Linked DNA regions of Homo sapiens: region 2 is linked to region 1. The links come from fine-mapping of genetic effects on gene expression. A gene starts in region 1. The other region holds a variant in brackets. All regions are shown on one strand. Distances are between the middles of the regions.

Evidence for each region. PIP is the estimated chance that this variant, and not a neighbour inherited with it, causes the effect.
Region 2: its variant is the best candidate, but not a certain one, in a credible set for the expression of ESR1 in whole blood (TOPMed, PIP 0.55).

Annotation. Positions count from the first base shown.
Region 1 is chr6:151,805,385-151,809,773 of GRCh38, reverse strand. It overlaps ESR1 (estrogen receptor 1), which reads right to left and starts at 2,092. Exons shown (of 8, transcript NM_000125.4): 1 at 1,410-2,092. The coding sequence starts at 1,861.
Region 2 is chr6:151,679,927-151,684,315 of GRCh38, reverse strand. It overlaps a transcript of ESR1 not described here. Among named protein-coding and RNA genes, the nearest start is that of ESR1, 130 kb to the left of the region's middle. The variant C/T (reference allele first, on the strand shown) is at 2,523.

The DNA.
Region 1 (4,389 bases):
GTTTGTCTTTTGAGTAAAGACAGCTTGGATCTGCGTGGCTGTGGGATGCTCTAAATTTCTCCAAGGCGGCTGAAGATGCACACTGAATACCCCCAGAATCTGCCCTTCAGTATCCTCTGGGGCCAAACTGCACTTTAGTCCCCTTCCTTCTGCTATAAATATCCCTGGAAACAGAATACTGAACAAAAACTGGTCCACGGCTTACAAGGCAGAAAGATATAGGGACACCAGTCCGGATACCAGTGTACAGTTGGGAAATGCCTAATTCAGGACCCAGCCATGTGGCGCCCTGAAGCTTCCAAACCCAGTCCGGGGTACACCTGTCCTGTGGCCACCTAGGAAGGTGTTCACCAGAAGCGCCCACCTAATCCCTCTGCAGGCCCATCAGGAAAACAAAAAACAAAAAACAAAAGGAGAAACTGGGCAAGAGAAAATGGGAGGGAGAGGAGAGGGAGAAAGAACAATTCTTGTAGGGAAAAAAATTAAAATGAGGACACACAACCTTCGCCATTGAAGTCACAAAGTGGTCTCCTGTGTCCTGGACCGGCCGCGCTCCTTCCACAGTGGCTGCGAGGCGCAGACCCTGGCTGACCCGCACGCCACTCCGGGGCATTCTCCCCGGGTGGGACAGGCTTGTCACTGGGCTGGCAGGAGATTATTTTTAAGCACTTGTGCTTCCATATGGCTTGTTTTAAACTCGCGGGACACCTACAAATTTCCGGCTGTCAGAAGTCACATGCCAGCAATCCGCTCCAGCGCGGACTCAGCCAGCTAACTCCGAAATCAGACCCATTCAACTCCCAATCGCTCTCTAAAGCCCCAGGACGTGGGGTGGGGAGGAGGGGAAAGCGGGTGACAGGAATCGCTTCCCAGAAAGTCATCATCATAGCTGACATATTTCCAATCAAATAGTCTAGATGAAAGGAAATTTGGGGAGCACATTAAACAAAAACATTAAAAGGATAAATAAAACTCTGCTGAGCTCTGCTAACTCCAAACACCCCCAACTTTAAATGCCAAGAGCGAGACCTTCCCAAGTGACTCAAAGCGCCCCGTGTTTATTTGCCTGGAGGTGTTTTCCCCCACAAATAACTGCTGCTTTGTCTGGTTTTCCAACGTGTGTTTTGTTAGGAAGCCCGGGCTTTCGGGTCTGCCTCTCGCACGGACGGTAAGTGGGTGGAGAGTACGTTTTTTTCAGCTGCCCGGCGAGAGAACTTGACTCTGAACGCAGCGCGGGCTGCACGCAGAACCCCCGGGCTGGGCCGCGCGCCCCGGGCTCCCTGCGCGCACCCTCGGGTCGCGCGTCCCGCGGCTCCCGCAGCTCCCTAGGCTCTCCCTTCTCCCTCCCTCCCTCCCTCCCTCCTGCCGGGCGCGGCGGCCACCCCGACGGGCGGCGCGGGCGCGGGTACCTGTAGAATGCCGGCGGGCCGGCCTCGCGCACCGTGTAGCCGCTGGGCTCGTTCTCCAGGTAGTAGGGCACCTGCTGGCCGTGGGGCTGCAGGAAAGGCGACAGCTGCGGCGGCGGGTGCAGTAGCATCAGCGGGCTCGGAGACACGCTGTTGAGTGGGGGGAAACCCCCCAGGCCGTTGGAGCCGAACGCCGCAGCCTCAGACCCGGGGCCGTAGGGGAGGCCGGTCTGACCGTAGACCTGCGCGTTGGCGGCGGCCGCGGCGTTGAACTCGTAGGCGGCGCCCTCGGGGTAGTTGTACACGGCGGGCTTGCTGCTGTCCAGGTACACCTCGCCCAGGGGCCGCTCCAGGGGGATCTTGAGCTGCGGACGGTTCAGGGGCTCCAGCTCGTTCCCTTGGATCTGATGCAGTAGGGCCATCCCAGATGCTTTGGTGTGGAGGGTCATGGTCATGGTCCGTGGCCGCGGGCAGGGTGCAGACCGTGTCCCCGCAGGGCAGAAGGCTCAGAAACCGGCGGGCCACCTGGAAAAAGAGCACAGCCCGAGGTTAGAGGCGACGCAGCGCATGTCCCGCCGACACGCGAGCTCTGGCCCCGGCCCTGCCCCGGGAGCCTGCGGGTCCGGTGAAGCCGGGCGACCCGACGGGAGCAAGTGCAGTCCCAGGACGAACGCCCTCCGCCAGCTCCTGGGCTCCCGGGCCTCCAACTTTAAGTACTGGTCTCCCGAGCTCATATGCATTACAAAGGTGCTGGAGGACGGCCAGGGACTGTTGCCTTGCCCTGACATTGGCTTAAACATCACTCCAGGCACAACTCGATTTGGAGCGATCCCAAAGAGCAGCTTCCCTGAACTTTACTTTACTTGTCGTCGCTGCTGGATAGAGGCTGAGTTTCACGGCCAGGGGGCGGGGGCGCACGAGGATCTGCTAAAGGTGGCCCAGGGAAGACTGGGCTTAAAATAAACGCGAAAGACGGATCCAGGGGCCGGCTTTCTCTAATGTGCTGCCTTATGTGCCCCGTGCCAGACTCCGATATATCTCTGTTTGTCTCTCTTTCTGTTTGATTCCCCCTCCTCGTTGGCTAGAAATACGTAGTGTGTACATAGGATGACCCTGGGGAGGACTACACTGTAACCGAGATAGGGCAGATAGAATGGGGTGTGCGGTTGCATACGCAGCCAGCCACAGACAGCTATATTTAGCAGCTGGGGGAACTGACAGGGGGCATCTGAGGGGAAGGGGGCGGAGATTCAGGGTATACATATAGGAAGAGCTGCATTTTGCCATCAGGAGAATGCAACCTGCCAGGACCTCAGTTTCTTCCTCTGCAAAATGCTCCCAAAGTAGATAGACCCTTCCACAACCTTCTGAGATTCTCTCAGCCTGACTTGTGTGTTTATGTTGGACCACAGTACTGTACTTGGTCCCATTAGGAATTCTCATGTGAAGGATGATTCAGAAAAACCTTTGGTTAGGGCGCACATGGGTGTTCATGCCTTCCACAGGTTGGTTATGCAACCAAAACTTCAGAAAACTGAATATAAAATGTGACCTTTTCATACCAAACATAACCTCAGGTCACGAACCAAAGCTTTGGCAATTATGTTACATTGTCGGTCTGGTCCAGCTAACAGATTTTTAAAATGCATTTCTGCATGTCTATCCTTTAGTCCTACAACTCGATCTTCTCGGTTCACTTGGGCTAGGATATGCAGAATCAAATATCCAGATGAAAAACAAATAGAAAAAAGTTTTTAACTGAATTAAAAGTTAAACATGCACACGCACATACACACACACATATATGTGTATATATATATATATATATATATATATACATATTAAGGAGACAAAAAATAGGTGAAGTATATCATGCGTCTATAATCTTGGATAGTTTATACTTTTGAATAAACTTCCTTTGCTGCAGCCTAATAGACTCTGATACAACTATCAATACTTTGTTTTAATTGCTATCCCAAACACCCAACAGAGTATCTGACGAAGTGTTCATGGTCTATCTAAATGCCAAGCTTACTGTTACTAAGAGTTACATTTTTGACTATTTTATATCAAGTATACATTTTATCTAATTCTTACAAAAATAGACCATTGTTGGACAATATGCAAATGTAGCTGAAGCCAAAATCGAGTTTAGCATTAATGACTATAGATTGTCAGCAAATAAAGGGTTAAAAACACATTAGGTGCATCGCAGATATTTCCCTTTATGGCCAGCAATCATTACTTTCCAAAGCAATTTTTTACAGATGATTTAATTTCCATAAATCACACTTTCAATTTTCAAATGCCTTTTTAAAACACATGCAAAAAGCACTTCATAGGGCTCTTAAAAAATGTGAACCTGCCAAATTATATGCAAATGGCACAAAGAATCCTACAAGTCCTGAAAGAAAAAGGAGACACACACATACCCCCATGGAGAACAGCAATCCTCATCTCCCTGCTAGGATACAGACACTAGCCAGAAAGGTAAGTTGCTTTCTCAAAATGCTAAAGCTACAGAGAGAGAAATCAAAACAAGCCTACCCTGCTGGATCAAGAACGTCTTTCCAGAAATGTTCCATGGGCTTGTAGAAGTCAAGGGCCGAGAGAGTGAGAAGGAAGGAAGGAATGTGCTCGCATGTGCGAGTGGCTCAGTGTGTGAACTAGGCAGAGAGAGTGTGTGGATGTGTTTGTGCGTGGAATGGCAGGGATTCGGGAAGCAGCCAGTAGGCAGGGCACTTGGCAGCCCCTCCCGGCAGACACGCAGCTGGGCTACTGCACAGCGCTGGATGAATGGCAGTGGGGAGTGAGGGGAGACTTGCTGTCTGCTCACAGGGAGCAGTGTGGCACAGCCAGAGAAAGCTGTACTGGGGAGGAGAAACCCCAGCCCCTTTGCCCCTACCCTTGGAGGCTGGAAAGTACCCTATGCTTTCTGCTGCCACCCCAAGCAAGAGGAAAAACAGGCTTGCTGTGAATCATA
Region 2 (4,389 bases), 130 kb after region 1:
ACCTCTCTTTCCCTGCTCCCACCATCCTATGCTTGGATTTCAGCCCCTTCTCTATCTAGGTCAGGTGTGATCCCACCACTTCCTCAGTGTTCATCTCAAAGCACACCTTCTCCATGGAGACCTTCCTGATGGCCCAACATCATCCTATTCTACCCTTCTCTGAATCTCTCCACATGCCACTTGTACCCTTCTCCTCTAGCAACAAGCACTACTGAAGCATCTCCTCTGTGCCAGCAAGGAAGAACAGATATGATCCTGAGGAGCTTGTGTCTAGGAAGGGAGACAAATGAATTGTATGACACGTAGCCAGGTGTGGTGGCTCACGCCTGTAATCCCAGCACTTTTTGAGGCAGGGGTGGGCTGATGAGTTGAGCTCAGGAGTTCGAAACCAGCCTGGCCACATGGTGAAATCCCATCTCTACTAAAACTACAAAAAAAAAAAAAAAAAAAATAGCCAGACGTGGTGGCACATGCTTGTAATCCCAGCTACTTAGGAGGCTGAGGTGAGAGAATTGCTTGAACCTGGGAGGTGGAGGTTTCAGTGACCTGAGATAGCACCTCTGCACTCTAGCCTGGGCGACAGAGTGAGACTCTATCTCAAAAAAAAAAAGAAAAAAAAATGTATGACAACCTGATAACTAATCAGAATTCACACATTTACAGAACACTTGATAACACTCTTAGATAAGTGGCCAATTCAATCTAGTCCTGAGTTACTTCTGTATCTCCCATGCCTCCTACCACCAATGGATTGCAGTTGATTGCAGGCTACCTGGGAATATGGCTTACTCCACCTACATCCAAGGTGGTAGTTCACACAGGGCCTGGTGAATATATGTGCTTTTTTTTTTTTTTTTGATCAAATGAATCTCCATTTAAATTGAGGGGGCAGGAAGTCCTGTTCCTCTCCAATCCACATCCCTCTATCATCCCCAATATCCAAAGAGACCTGCATTCACCTTGCTCTCCAAGCAACAGAAACAGCAGACTCTGACCATTTACAGGGCTACTGAGCAGCCTCAGTCCCCAAGTACACCCACCTGGGCTTGTAAACCTCCCTCTACAATACCAAAATCTGTACTGGAAAGGACATGTCCCCAAGTCCCAATACCGTCAAAGTATTTGAAATAGGAACAAGAAGTAAAAGATAAAACATAGAAAACAAAGAACAAAACTAGATAATGACATCGGAGACAGTACATATTTAAGCAGCCCAGTATTGACATAAGGAAGATAAGAGGATAAGACCAAAGAGCAGGCATTTGGATCACTAGGTCACCATAAGTACAAAATATGCTTCACCCGGATAGTAATATGAGTCTAATTTTCTGTCATCATTTAGAAAATGAATGCATTTAACATCATTTTCCTCACAACTAAATTTTGGCTCAGTACTGTATGTTCATATTTCTATTTCATAAAATTTTTGTAGGCTCTCCTGGTTTTCTTACCCCATTCTGCATCACAAACATCCACATGGGGGGTCCCCAGGGGATTTGGAATCCCCTGAAATCATATCCAAACATTTAGGTACATAAGAATATGTGCATTTTTCTGAAGGAAGAGTCTGAAAACTTCATCAAATTCTTAAGGAAACCTAAACAAGATTCAGAATCAAAGGAATGGGTTTACCACTGCAAATGGAATGTCTAATAACTCTTCCACGTATACTATTCTGATATTTTTCACAATTTGTAAATATTGCCTATTAGTTTTCCTTTTCAAATTAGCCCCCTTTTACCAAATTCATGAAAGTTTACAAGCTGCACCTTTCTTCTAAAATAAATTGGGATAGTCATTTCTCATTTTTGAAATTTTACTTGTAAAACTCCAAAGAGATCTTGATTTTCAAAACTTTAGGTCTACTCAGCAATTATCAAGTTGTGCTGTGAACCAGCTCCCGGCAGCTCAGAATAAGAAACACATGAAACTCCCTCCAGGGAGATCCAATTCTGTCCTTCCCTTTATACCAAAAAAAACTTCCTACAGGAGGAAACGAAAGATGGGAAAGCCAACCTGAGCACCTGGAATAGCATCAGCCTCTACCGTGCAATTCAATGGTGCCATTTATTTTTCTCATATAGGAAAGCAAAGGAAATAGAGTGAAAACAAAGGTGCACACAGATTAAACAACAGGCTATGAAAACAGTGACTTGGGCATGGGAAAATAATCAAACACTCCATGTGAAAATCAAAAAACCTGTGCTAGGAAATAAAAGGTTGAATACTAAAGCATCCGATAAACAGTTTTCCTACGGGGACTCAGACAGCTGATAGGCCTGTGAGTGTTTGTAACTCCAGATGTTTTAACTTTTCAGTTTCTCCGCGCCCTGTGTGGTGATTCTGCACTTAGGAGATTTATTTAAACTGCAGCCACCGGAGACTGCCAGCTGCAAGCGACCCCAGCACCTCGTGGTGAGCAGGTCTTCCGGAATCACTACAACTGTCGCAGGTGGGGCCTTGTTTGCTACTTGTTGAGACGTTTAAAAGACATTTTGGCAGAAAGCACCGCCTCCCCCACC[C/T]CAAGCTGGACCCCGCGTCCAGCTGTGGGCCACCACTAAACCCACAAAGCGACCGGATCCCTTGGAAGCGGCGGCCTGGAGGAAGCAGCCTGTCCCGAAGAATCTGTGCATTATTTATTCAGGCAAAGAGGATATTCATTTCAACCAGGACGGGAAATGTTCGATTATGTAACATTGGGGACGAAGAGAATGAGGCTTTTTTTTATTTTTTCTTTTTCCTGGAGAAAAGTGTTGCGAAATAGTCCAAGAACAGCTTCCAGTTTCCACAGTCCCTGTGCTTCCAGAGGCTTCTAAATGACAAGATCAAGGCGCCTGAGAAGCTAGAGAATTGACGAGCACGGGACCCTCAACAGCTCCCCCTGAGCCTCCCCCACCCCTCAGCACCGCCGTCCCCTCCTGCCATCAGGAGCGTGGAAAGCTCTTGCTGTCGCTTTCATCAGTCATCTCAGAGTCTCCTCGGTCCAATCGTCCTGAGGCATTTTCCCCACCTGTTCACACTCCAGCGCAACCCCAGAAACAATCGTTATTTCTATGGTCTACTGCACAGAGCCAGCCAGAAATATAATTAAGAATCATTCACAGGGATGTGCAAACAAGACTGGGCTTGACCAACACATCAAAATTTCAGAAGACGAGCTGGGGACCAGAGAGGTAGGTTCACAGAAGAATAAGTGAAGGTCCAAACCAAGGCCCCAACTGGTTGACTGAGCAGGAACAAGGACGTGCCCGGCAGCCATCCCAGGCAGCTGGCAGGGCTCTGAGTGGGCAGAACAGGTAAGGAGGCCAAGCAGCAGGCCAGGAGAGCCTCAAGTCCTCCCAGAGACGGGGCGTCTACCCCTGGGAGACAAGGACACCAAGCCAGGACTTCATCCCAGTGGAGCAAGGCAAACCCAGCGACTCGAACAGGATTTCAGGGGTTAAGGAGGAGACCGGTTCATTTTTTTTCATCCAATAATTATCTCCTGAGCACCTACCATGTGCCAGGCATTGTTGTAGGTGTTAGGAACATAGCTGTAAACAAAAGAGACAAAGATCCCTGACCTCCTGAAGCTTATATTCTAGTGGAACAAGGGAGGAGGCCAACTATTACGGACTGAAAGATTTGTGTCCCCCCAAAATCCATATGCTGAAATCCAAACCCCCAATATGATGGCGACAGGAAGTGGGGCCTTTGGAAGGTGATTAGGTTGTGAGGTCAGGGCCTTGTGATGGGATTAGTGCTCTCATAAAAGAAACAAAAGAGCTCTTTGATCTCTTTCTGCTACATGAGGACACAGGGAGAAGGTGGCCATCTGGCCGGGCATGGTGGCTCACGACCCCCCAGCATTTTGGGAGGTCGAGGTAGGTGGATCACTTGAGGTCAGGAGTTCAAGACCAGCCTGGCCAACATGGCAAAACCCCGTCTCTACTAAAAATATAAAAATTAGCTGGGCGTGGTGGTGTGCACCTGTAGTCCCAGCTACTCGGGAGGCTGAGGCAGGAGACTCACTTGAACCTGGAAGGTGGAGATTGCAATGAGTCGAGATGGCACCACTGCATTCCAGCCTGGGTGACAGAGCGAGACTCCAACTCAAAAAAAAAAAAAAAAAGAGAAAAGAAAAAAAGCAAGGTGGCTGTCTGCACCTGGAAGAGGCCCTCACCAGAACCAGACCATGCTGGCACCCTGATCTCAGATTTCCACCCTCCAGAACTGTGGGAAATAAATGTCTGATTTTAAGCCACCCAGTTTATGGTATCTGTTGAAGCAGCCGAGCTAACCAATAAATAAAATATATATAGAAAGAAAGTCAGATGGTGACAGTGCTAAGGCGATGATTAAGCAGGGATTAGAGATGGGGAGTACAAGGGTAGGGACTGGACTTATAAG